4 separate regions of the Homo sapiens genome follow, and regions 1, 3 and 4 are each linked to region 2. The links come from fine-mapping of genetic effects on gene expression. A gene starts in region 2. Each other region holds a variant in brackets. All regions are shown on one strand. Distances are from middle to middle. Region 1 overlaps ARHGAP19 (Rho GTPase activating protein 19). Region 2 holds the start of SLIT1 (slit guidance ligand 1). Region 3 overlaps ARHGAP19 (Rho GTPase activating protein 19). Region 4 overlaps ARHGAP19 (Rho GTPase activating protein 19).

The links. PIP is the estimated chance that this variant, and not a neighbour inherited with it, causes the effect.
Region 1: its variant is fine-mapped to the expression of SLIT1 in neutrophils (BLUEPRINT, PIP 0.95).
Region 3: its variant is fine-mapped to the expression of SLIT1 in gastroesophageal junction (GTEx, PIP 0.99).
Region 4: its variant is fine-mapped to the expression of SLIT1 in whole blood (TOPMed, PIP 0.94).

What each region holds. Positions count from the first base shown.
Region 1 is chr10:97,250,676-97,253,360 of GRCh38, reverse strand. All of the region lies in intron 6 of ARHGAP19 (Rho GTPase activating protein 19), which reads left to right. All of the region lies in intron 6 of ARHGAP19-SLIT1 (ARHGAP19-SLIT1 readthrough (NMD candidate)), which reads left to right. Among named protein-coding and RNA genes, the nearest start is that of ARHGAP19, 41 kb to the left of the region's middle. The variant G/TG (reference allele first, on the strand shown) is at 1,037.
Region 2 is chr10:97,184,435-97,187,119 of GRCh38, reverse strand. It overlaps SLIT1 (slit guidance ligand 1), which reads left to right and starts at 1,161. Exons shown (of 37, transcript NM_003061.3): 1 at 1,161-1,642. The coding sequence starts at 1,446. The region is part of intron 11 of ARHGAP19-SLIT1 (ARHGAP19-SLIT1 readthrough (NMD candidate)); the gene reads left to right. RefSeq lists enhancers at 316-816, 817-1,317.
Region 3 is chr10:97,228,042-97,230,726 of GRCh38, reverse strand. ARHGAP19 (Rho GTPase activating protein 19) reads left to right here. Exons shown (of 12, transcript NM_032900.6): 10 at 853-963; 11 at 1,502-1,580. ARHGAP19-SLIT1 (ARHGAP19-SLIT1 readthrough (NMD candidate)) reads left to right here. Exons shown (of 15, transcript NR_037909.1): 10 at 853-963; 11 at 1,502-1,580. The region is part of intron 2 of LOC105378447 (a long non-coding RNA gene); the gene reads right to left. Among named protein-coding and RNA genes, the nearest start is that of SLIT1, 43 kb to the right of the region's middle. The variant T/C (reference allele first, on the strand shown) is at 1,030.
Region 4 is chr10:97,220,647-97,223,331 of GRCh38, reverse strand. It overlaps ARHGAP19 (Rho GTPase activating protein 19), which reads left to right. Exons shown (of 12, transcript NM_032900.6): 12 at 1-1,153. The region is part of intron 11 of ARHGAP19-SLIT1 (ARHGAP19-SLIT1 readthrough (NMD candidate)); the gene reads left to right. All of the region lies in intron 2 of LOC105378447 (a long non-coding RNA gene), which reads right to left. Among named protein-coding and RNA genes, the nearest start is that of SLIT1, 36 kb to the right of the region's middle. The variant A/G (reference allele first, on the strand shown) is at 1,175.

The DNA of each region.
Region 1 (2,685 bases), 66 kb before region 2:
GGTTACCTGTGCTGAAGTGCAGTGATGCAATCTCAGCTCACTGCAGCCTCCGTCTCCTGGGTTCAAGCGATTCTCCTGCCTCAGCCTCTCGAGTAGCTGGGATTACAGGCACGCACCACTACACTGGACTAATTTTTGTATTTTTGGTAGAGACAGGTTTTCACCATATTGGCCAGGGTGGTCTCTAACTCCTGACCGCCCGCCTCGGCCTCCCAAAGTGCTGGGATTACAGGTGTGAGCCACCGCAGCCAACCTGAGATCCACTTTTTAGGTCCTACATATGAGTGAGAACATGTGATATCTGTCTTTCTGTGCCTGGTTAATTTCACTTAATAGCCTCCGGTTCCATCCATGTTGCTGCAATTTGACAGGATTTCATTCTTTTTTTATGGCGGAATAGTATTCCATTGTGTATATACGCCACATTTTCTTTATCATTCATCCATTGATGGACACTTACGTTGATTACATATCTTTGCTATTGTGAATAGTGCTGCAATAAACATGGGGATGCAGATATTCCTTTGAAAACTGATTTTCTTCCCTTTGAATACATACCCAGTAGTGGGATTGATGTATTATATGGTAGTTCTATTTTTAGTTTTTTGAGAAGTCTTCATACTGCTTTCCATAATGGCTATACTAATTTGCATTCCCACCAACAGTGTATAAGAGTTCCCTTTTCTTCACATCCTCATCAGCATCTGTTATTTTTTATTTTTATTTATTTATTTTTTTGAGATGGAGTCTCACTCTGTCACCAGGCTGGAGTGCAGTGGCGCGATCTCAGCTCACTGCAAGCTCTGCCTCCCAGGTTCATGCCATTCTCCTGCCTCAGCCTCCCGAGTAGCTGGGACTACAGGCACCTGCCACCACGCCCGGCTAATTTTTTTTGTATTTTTAGTAGAGACGGGGTTTCACCATGTTAGCCAGGATGGTCTCGATCTCCTGACCTCATGATCCGCCCACCTCAGCCTCCCAAAATGCTGGGATTACAGGCGTGAGCCACCGCGCCCGGGCTATTTTTTTTTTTTTT[G/TG]AGACAGTCTCATTCTGTCACCCAGGCTGGAGTGTGGTGGCATGATCACAGCTCACTGAGCTCAAGTGATCCTCCTACTTCAGCCTCCTGGTTAGCTGGGACCACAGGCGCATGCCACCACACCTGGCTAGTTTTTAATTTTTTGTAGAGATGAGGTCTTGCTATGTTCCTGCTTTATCATTTTTCCTAAAATTCTTCTTAACTATTACTAGTTCTGTCCTCTACTGTTATCAGTCCATCTCTTTCAGTCTGGTTTAACTCTTCCCAACACCACATCTTTTCCTAGAGATTTACAATGTATATACAGTTAAGGCCAATTTCTAATACTTGAGCAGTCCTTCTGTTGTTTCTCTATGAATTGTAAAATTCTTGTTTCTCTATAAATTTCTTGTTGTTTCTCTATGAATTGTAAAATACTTAAGAACTCAGACTTTCATGTAAGCCTATTTGTCTAAGCCTGGTGCCCTTTCTGGATATTTTTTCAGCTCATAGCATCTTTGGGGATGGTGGTTTTTGTTGTTTCTTTCCTTTTCTTCCCCTTTTCCCCTTCCCTTCCCCTTCCCTTCCCTTCTCCTTCCCTTCCCCTTCCCTTTCCTTCCCCTTCCCTTCCCCTTCCCTTCCCCTCCCCCTCCCTTCCTTTCCCCTTCCCCTTCCCTTCCCCTCCCTTTCCCCTCCTCTTCTTCCTTTTCCCTTCCCCTTCATCTTCCCCTTCCCTTCCCCTTCCCTTCCCCTTCCTTCCTTTCCCCTTCCCTTCCCCTCCCCTTCCCCTTCCCTTCCCCTCCCCTTCCCCTCCCCTTCCCCTCCCCTTCCCCTCCCCTTACCCTTCCTTTCCCCTCCCCTTCCCCTCCTCTTCTCCTTCCTTTTCCCTTCCCCTTCCCCGTCTCCTCCCCTTCCCCTTCCCTTCCCCTTCCTTTCCCTTCCCTTCCCCTTCCCTTCCCCTTCCCTTCCATTCCCCTTCCTTTCCCCTTTCCTTTCCCTCCCCCTTCCTTTCCCTTTCCCCTTCCCTTCCCCTTCCCTTCCTTTTCCCCTTCCCTTCCTTTTTCCCTTCCCTTCCCATTCCCTTCCCCTTCCCTCCCCCTTCCCTTCCCCTTCCCTTCCCCTTCCATTCCCCTTCCCCTTCCCTTTCCCCTTCCCTTCCTTTCCCTTTCCCTTCCCCTTCCCTTCCCCTTGGCTTTCCCCTTCTCTTCCCTTCCCTTCCCCTTTCTCTTCCCCTTCCCCTTCCTTTTCCCCTTCCCCTTTCCCTTCCTTCCTTATTTTCTTTCTTTTGACAGGGTCTCACTCTGCCCCCCAGGCTGGAGTGCAGTAGTGCTATCTGCTCACTGCAGCTTTGACTTCCCAGGCTCAAGCGATCCTCCCACCTCAGATTCCCAAGCAGCTGGGACAGGTGCGTGCCACCATGCCTGGCTAATTTTTCTATTATTTGTGGTGACAGGGTACTACCATGTTGCCCAGGCTGGTGTTGAACTCCTGGGCTCAAGCATTTCTCCTGCCTTGGCCTCCCAAAGTGTTGGGATTACAGGCATGAGCCACCGCTCTTGGCCTTCTTTCTTTTTTTTAAATGAAATAGAATAGATATATTCTTGTTTGGAGAAAATTTCTGTTGGTCTTAAGCTCCGTTTTATAGTTTTTCAATTTAGAAATTAAACTGG
Region 2 (2,685 bases):
CAGCGAGCCACAGCTGTCCTTGGCGTTGAGGAGATCTTTCGTCTTTTCTGGGGTTGAGGAGAATTCTCTCCCCACCTGGATGTCCCGTTCACACCCACGTCCACACATGCCTTACGGTGACGAAGGTCCCTACCCAGCCGGGTGTGAGGCCTGGGTCTGACGGGGCTGGCCTGTGGGGTTCTCTCCCAAGCAGGCCGCCCAGCGCTATGCCAGCCCTCTCTGTCTCCTTTGATGTCAAGATGGAATATTCATTTTCATCTGTTTCCACCTGTCAGAAATGGAGGAACGCTGGTGTGAGTGGAGGAAGACGTTTGCCAGATTTCCAAGTCCCCTTAATGTCTGTCCCTCTCTTCTACAACGGGGGAAGAAGCCCGTGTAACTGTATGGTACAAATACGCCCTGCTGAGCAAGTGTTCCAATCAGAGCCATTCTCATCCTGGGCATGCGGCTAGCTTGTTCCCCTCTGAGAAGTGGGTGCATTGAGGTAGGAAGGAGACTGTACTCCGCCTAGCGCTTTCGTGGACCCTCCCCCCCGACAAAGCTCCATCCTCAAAGTCCAGGCTAAGTAAGGTTGGTGGCTTGAGGATGCTACCTGGGGCACAGGCACAGGGTTTCCCTTAACCAAGAATTGACACAGCGAGTCGGGTGGGGCCGAGAGGCCGCTGCTGCCGTCGGGGGATGGGGGGAAACGGGTCTGACTCCCCGGGAAGGCGTCCAAGCGGCAAAATAAGATCTCCCTCCCACCCTGGACTAGCAGCTGGGGCCGCGGGTGCCGGGGTGCGTGCGTCTAAATGTGCGCATCCTCGCCGTGTGTGTGTGTGTGTGTGTGTGTGTGTGTGTGTGTGTGTGTGTACAGCCAGGACTTGGCGGGTCGAGTCACACCCCCTTCCCTCTTCTCCCATCCCCCGCAGCCCCGTGCCCGCTGACGGCGCCTCGGAGGTTCCACCTTTGAAACTGTAGGCGGCTTGCAGCCGCTGAGTGGTCGTCGGGAGAGGGGGGCTGCGGCGGGGGAGGGCGGGGAGGAGCCTGGCCCTGGATGTGTGCTTTTCGATTGATGGATGACTGCCGGGTGGGAGCGAGCGCGCGGGTGTGTGTGTGATCGTGTGTGTGTGTGTGGTGTGTGCGCAGGGTGCGTGCGCGCGCGGGGCCTGCCCATTTTCCTCCTCGCAGCAGTCAGTTGGGAGCTGGAGGGAGGGAGAGGGAGACGCAGGCGGCGAAACGGCAGAGGAGCCGAGCCCCCTCCGCCCAAGGCGCCCTCCCTCCGTCCGCGCACAGGCGCCGTCGCTTGGAGGAGCAAGGTGCCTCCCAGCCCGCAGGGGCGCCGCGCGCAAGCCCGCGGGCTCTTCGGTGGCTCTGCCCCGGGACTGCACCTGGAGGCGGCCCCGGACGGGGATGGTCAGCGGCTGCTGCCGTCTGGCTCGCGAGCGGGACGCTGTGAGGGCACCATGGCGCTGACTCCCGGGTGGGGGTCCTCGGCGGGGCCGGTCCGGCCGGAGCTCTGGCTGCTGCTGTGGGCAGCCGCGTGGCGCCTGGGTGCCTCGGCGTGCCCCGCCCTCTGCACCTGCACCGGAACCACGGTGGACTGCCACGGCACGGGGCTGCAGGCCATTCCCAAGAATATACCTCGGAACACCGAGCGCCTGTGAGTATGGTCCCCGCCCCTGGCTCCCTGGCTCCGAGGTTGCCCTCCCACCCAGACGCAATTCCGGACTTGGGGGTGGGGGCAGGACCATTGGGGCCCGTCCGGGCTCCGCAGCCCACAGACGGGTCAGTGCCTGCCGGGGTCTTTCCCGAGCCAGGAGCCAGGAGCGCCGTGGTTTCCCCATCCCTGGGATTCAAAGGGCCCTCGGCGGGGTTGTCAGCTTCCGTCCTCACACCTGCACCCTGCACCCTGCACTCCGCACCCTCAGGCCCTCCTCACTGCGCCAGCGCTTTATTCCTCCAGGGTGCCTGCGAACTGGTGTCAGAAAGCCTTCCTTGCACCCAGGAGGGACACTTCCCACACTCGCCAAGCACAATGTCTCCTTTTGGGCACATGGGGCTACGGCCGCGTTCTGAGCCAGCTGCGCAGATTCCCGCTCCCAGAGCTTGCTCCTGACGAAGGGCAGCAGGGTGGGATGGAGGCGAAGTTTCTGGTCTGCCCCTTCTTCTCCATTGTTTGCCCCAGAGCCTTGAGAATTCTTCCCCTGCAGGTGCCACGCGTTGGTCCCCTACTCACCCGCCTCCCTCCACACCCAGCCATCCCCAACACAGGCAGACAATGGGACCTGAGGGCTTTGGGTATGGGGCTTGGGGTATGTAACATTCAGCACCCGAAAAGGGGCAGGTGTGTCTTGGATGGAGAACCCGGTGGATAATGCCAAGAAGTCAGGAGCTTGGAGAGGGGGGCCCAAGGTTAAAGATATTGACCATGACAAGTAATAAAAAAATAGCATTTCTCTTCCCCTGTTCTGTCTCACTTGTGAATTCTTGAGGAAACTTGATCCTTTTCTTTTCTAGACCCAGTAAGCTAGTAGAATGTGTGTGTGTGTGTTTGGGTGTGTTTGAGTGTGTGTATTTACAGACCTTTATACTTTGTTTTCTGTGACTCTCCTGCAGAATGTGTTTCTGTGTGAATTCCTAGTATTAAGGGGCCACCTTAATAGCGTGAGGCCATGAGAGTCCCCGTAATGGGCTGTGTGTGTG
Region 3 (2,685 bases), 44 kb before region 2:
CCTGTCTGGATCCCTTTTTTGGCTAGAGTTTTTTCCTCCAGAACTCCTCTCATGTAAATTATTTATTAAATCAGAATGTTCTGAATATTGCTGCTCATATTTATAATGCAGGGTTTAATGTTCTAGTTTTGATATGTTCTTTTTTTAGAATTCAAATTTATTCTCTAAGGGAAAAAAAAATTTCTCCAAAGATGGTAGAATTGTCACTGTTGGCGGTTACCTAAACTACATCATCTTCTAAGCTGTTCAGAGATGAAAGGGCTTTTAGTCTTGCTCTGAATGTCAGTACAGTCATGTGACCCCCTTAAGAAGGCCTCTACCTTCTTGTGGCTATATTAGGAACTCTTATAGAATGTCTCCAAATGTTCCAGTCCTGTGTGAGTAAATGACAGGGAGGAAGAAGTGCCTTAGAGAAGAGCCAGCCTAAGTATCCCTCAGTGGTAAGTAGGGGGGAGGGACTTTTTAAATAGTTGCCAGAGACAGCACATCTTTGGGGAAAAAAATTATATGATGAGTAACTGGTGTTTCTATATTGTGAGTAACTGGTCTCAGAGGCACACTGTAATTGACCTATATTAGCTTGTTTAAATCAACTATAAAGTTGCTTCTAACCTTTCAGCCCTTTTAAATGTGGAGGAAAAGTGATCACTTAAACAAAAGTAATGATTTTGGGTTTTTTTGGTAACATGCTTTGGCCTCTCTTGTATAAGATGGCCTGAGAGGGTCCATACAGGATTATCAGAATGCTGAGATTTTTTTAACCCAAGGACATTACAGTTTTGAAGGCTAGTATAGCTCCACTGTAGATGCAGTAGGTGTTTATAAATCAAATGTTTTCTGTTCTTAAATCAGCGGAAGGTCCTGGGAAATCAGATGATGTCAGAAAAGAAAAAGAAGAACCCTACTCCAGAATCTGTGGCCATTGGTGAATTGAAGGGAACCAGCAAAGAAAATAGGAACTTAGTAAGACACTGTTCTTTGGACTGTCTGTCTGTCTGTATATATTTGTAGAAAAGAGGAAAATTGATA[T/C]ACTGTCATCTGTTTTACTGTGTTTCTTTGGGCCATTCAAATGGCTTTTTCTCAATCCTTTCATTTATGCTACCTTCTTTCTGTTGGTTTTCATTGACTCATTCAACAAACAAACACATTTTGAATTCAAGAATGATATCACTAGTCACAAGCAGATGAGTAGTACAGTACAGTAGCTCCTTAAACAAGTGCTGGAGGAAGCAATTAGTTCTTACTGGAAGATTCCACAGGTGACATTTGAGCCAGGCCTCCTAGGCTCTATATTACCTGTGGGGTGGTGGTTCAAGATATCCTAGGCATGCCTACTTCATTAAGCCAGCAGTAAATCAGTTAAGATTAATGAGATATAAATACATCAGTCTCAGAAAAACTCTTCACATTGAAATTGAACAAATAATTCATTTGTTAGTAAAGTCTGTCTATAGGAATGGCATTAGAACATTGAAACCACTGTACAATTTTCTTATTACAGTTATTTTCTGGCTCTCCAGCTGTCACGATGACACCAACAAGATTGAAGTGGTCTGAAGGGAAGAAAGAGGGGAAAAAAGGTACTAATTGTACTTACTCTCTGTTCTTACTAAATGTAATTCCTTTCTGCATCTAGTCAGTAGCATTTGTTTGAATTCCCAGGATAGTACATTTGTAGTCAGAAGTGACATAAAAATTACAAGGCCAGGTCCTTGCCCTTGAGTTCATTCACCAGATGGTTATTGAACCATTTACTCAGCATTGTCTTGGGTGCTAAGGGTAGAGCTGTGAACACAGACCCACATGGTCCCTGTGTTCTTGGACAGACAGGACACATGGGGGAAAATACCTTAAGAATACTTGCGAAGCAAATTAAAAACAAGTGTAAATGAATTTGTGAAACCAAGTTCAACAGTGCTGGGAGTATGCTTATGGAATAGTTAGGTTCCTTTTCTGTGTAGGCCAGCCCTAATTAGTGAAGCTTTCTAGATCAACAGCTCGTGCCTAAGGATCCTGGAAGTCATATCATACAGCATATTTTGGGGGCTATTTAGGACAAAGAGGACTATTTAATGCTGGGACTGCTGATTGTCCCAGGCTCTTCTGGTAAAAGCCTGCTGTGCCTTCCTCTGAAGGAGCCAAGTGGGTCAATGGAAAGACCGTGAGATTTGTGGTTAGTCCTGATGGGAGTTATCATTCCTCTGACCCAGGAAAACCACCCATTCTCTATGAATTCAAGTTTTCTCCTCTGAAAATGAGGATAAAAGTTACATCTACTTCACAGATTTATTAATTTATTATGAGGCTCAATTGAAATAATGTTTTGGCAGCACATTGTCATTGTTAAATCATTAACAAGTGGTTATAGTTGTTACTGTAGAAAACGGGCTGAAACCTGGTCTTGTTATATAAGGCTCATGTGGCAGCTGAAGTGAGTCTGGTTTGACATGATTGTTTTATCACTGGGATATGAGCATAATTACTATTTGAGACATCAGCAATAGGCAGAGATCAAAAGCCTAATCCTTATGGATAAATTCTTTTCTGGAAAATTAGATTTCAGTATATTCTTCTTACTTATCCTTGAATGAATTATCTAAACTCTCTTTTCTTTCCTCGTTGCTTCTGTCTTCCAGGCTGGGCTGTCTAATTGAGACAAGATGGGGGTTTGAGTTTTTTGTGTCT
Region 4 (2,685 bases), 36 kb before region 2:
GAGCATCAGGAGATACTGACTGTACCTGAGGGCCAAAACAGGAGCAGGTAACGAACCGTAAAAAAAGGAGCAGGTAATGAATCGTAACCAAAACTACAGTTGATCCTCCGCAAAGGAAAGCTCTTTACCCAGAATGTCCTTCCAGAGTCATTCAGGAAGGACAAGGGAACACCCTTGGGAAATGGGCTAGTGGAGGGCTGTTGACTGCAGTGACACCTGGGTGCTCCGGAGGTATCTGTTCTGTTGACCTGTAAGGAAGCAGTCGATCCTAGAGTGTCAGAACAGAGCCATTCTCTCCTCCTGAGTAGGAACGTTTCTGTTCAGTTTCCCTCACAGCAGCCTGTGTTAGCATGCAGTTGAAAATACTGCCGTCTAGGAGAACCTGTGGTCACTGGGAACGTGCCCCACAGTGACTGGCCATGCAACCAGGTGATTTTTAGGAATAGATGTCTCTAGACTCTGTCTCCTTTCCTACAAGGCCTCACACAGATGCTTGAGGCTAATGGCCCCCATTCTGAGGTCATTTTTGTGTAGAACTCCTTTCCCCAGGAGAGAGCCTTATCTCTGCCCTCCTTTACCCTGAAGGCTTCAAACGGAAGACAGGACCTAGATCTAAACCTAGATACTAGCATTTTGTGGGATTGTCTAGAATTTGGGGAAGATTTGGGTTCCTAAGATGCACAAGCGTTTTACACCAGTGGTGATTAACTCAACTAAAACCCACTGTAGGAAGTTAGCTTCCCCAGACAGCTAATGCCGAGATCTTCTACCAGCGTAGAGTTGACAGAAGCAGGCCAGCGAGGAGGTGTGGGACATAATAGCCTGAGTGCTTGGGTTACCATGGAGACTGGAGTGTGTGAGGCCACAGCCTGTGCTAAAGAGCCATGGAGCCCTCCCCTGGCCATGTCTGGGGACAGATAGAACCTGTTGGGGGAAATATTCCCTCACCCCAGGGTTCTTTCTGCAGAGCAAGGGTTGCCTTTGTCCTATCCCTGAGCTTGCTCAACAAGAGAAACAAGGTTTCTTAAGTGTTTTGGTTAAAGTTTTCATTCTTATTTGACTATGTATATGTAATTGTAAAGAAACGATCCTATGCATTGTCTTTCTTTTATATTCTTGTAATATTCTGAAATTAAAATTGTTTTGTTTCATATCCAGAGGATTTGACTGGTCT[A/G]TTCACATTTTGACTGTTGATGTTGAAGAGAGAGTTTTTCTCTTGTTCTGAGGAAAGTGAAGCCTCTAGAAAGGCTCCTCTTTGGCTTGTTTTTAGGTGGGTGGGTGGGTTCAGGAGGAGCGGGGCTTTTGGCTGATAAGAAGTATGATTTGGAGCCTCTGGGATCCTGAGCTTCCTAATTTCCCATGGCTGAGTCTAGAATGCTTCACATAGATTTCAGTTTCTCACATAATTTTTATTTCTTCATTTAAAAACAAGGAGTGATGGTTACAATAACAGGAAAACCTAGATGAAGTTTTCATCTGAGGCAGGAAGGTGTGTTTAGACAGCTCATGTTGAAATGTTCCTGCTGCTGTCTTGGTGGGCTTGGGCTGCTTTAACAGAACACCATAGACTAGGTGGCTTCTCAACATCAAAAATGTGCTTCTTACAGTTCTGCAGTCTGGGGAGTCCAAGAGCATGGTGCCAGCAGATTGGGTGTCTGCTGAGGGTGCACTCCCTGGTTCACAGACAGCCGTCTTCACTGTAACCTCACATGGTGGAAGGGACAAGGGATCTCTCTGGGGCCTCTTTTAGAGGAGCACTAATCCTATTCATGGGGGCCCTGCCAAAGACACTCCCAAAGACCCCTCCTACCAAAGACCCTACCTCCTAATATCATCACATTGGAGATTAGGTTTCAAAGTTAATTTGTGGGAATACAAACATTTAGTCTATAGCAGCTATTTTTTTTTTTTTTTCGAGACAGCATCTTACTCTGTCACCCAGGCTAGAGTGTAGTGGTGCGATCTTGGCTCACTGCAGCCTCCACCTCCCAGTCTCCGGTGATCCTCCCACCTCAGCCTCCCAAGTGGCTAGGGCTACAGCTGTGTGCCACCACACCCAGCTAATTTTTGTATTTTTTGTAGAGACGGGGTTTCACCATCTTGGCCAGGCTGGTCTTGAACTCCTGTACTCAAGTGATATGCCCGCCTCAGCCTCCCAAAGTGCTGGGATTACAGGCGTGAGCCACTGTGCCCAGCCTATGGCTGCAATTTATTAGGTATGTGACTTTGGGTAAGTCCCTGAATCTCCTGTCCCCTCATCTGTAAGGTGGGGAGAACGGTATACATCTCAATAACAAGGACTTCGCATGGAGGATTTTAATCTAAGGTCTGTGGTTATGCTTCAGGACAATAGTTTGCCCCTGTAATTCTATGTAAAATTTTATGTACATTTGCATTTTTCTAGGGGAGAGATTTCATAGCTTCTACGAGAATCTCAGAGGAATCCTTGACGATTAAAATACTGAGAATCACTAGCTTTACACAGTGCTGGCAGATGGCAATTATTCATTAAAGGTTAATTCTCTTTCTCTCTGCCAAGGGTAAATTTTATAATCAGCAGGTTATTGATGCTGACATAGCTACTTTGATGACAAAGATGTTGTTTAAATCCTGAATAGAAATAAACACTCTACAGTTGTCTTTACTCTGTTACCTACCCACACACTCCTCTTTTGCCATGTTAGC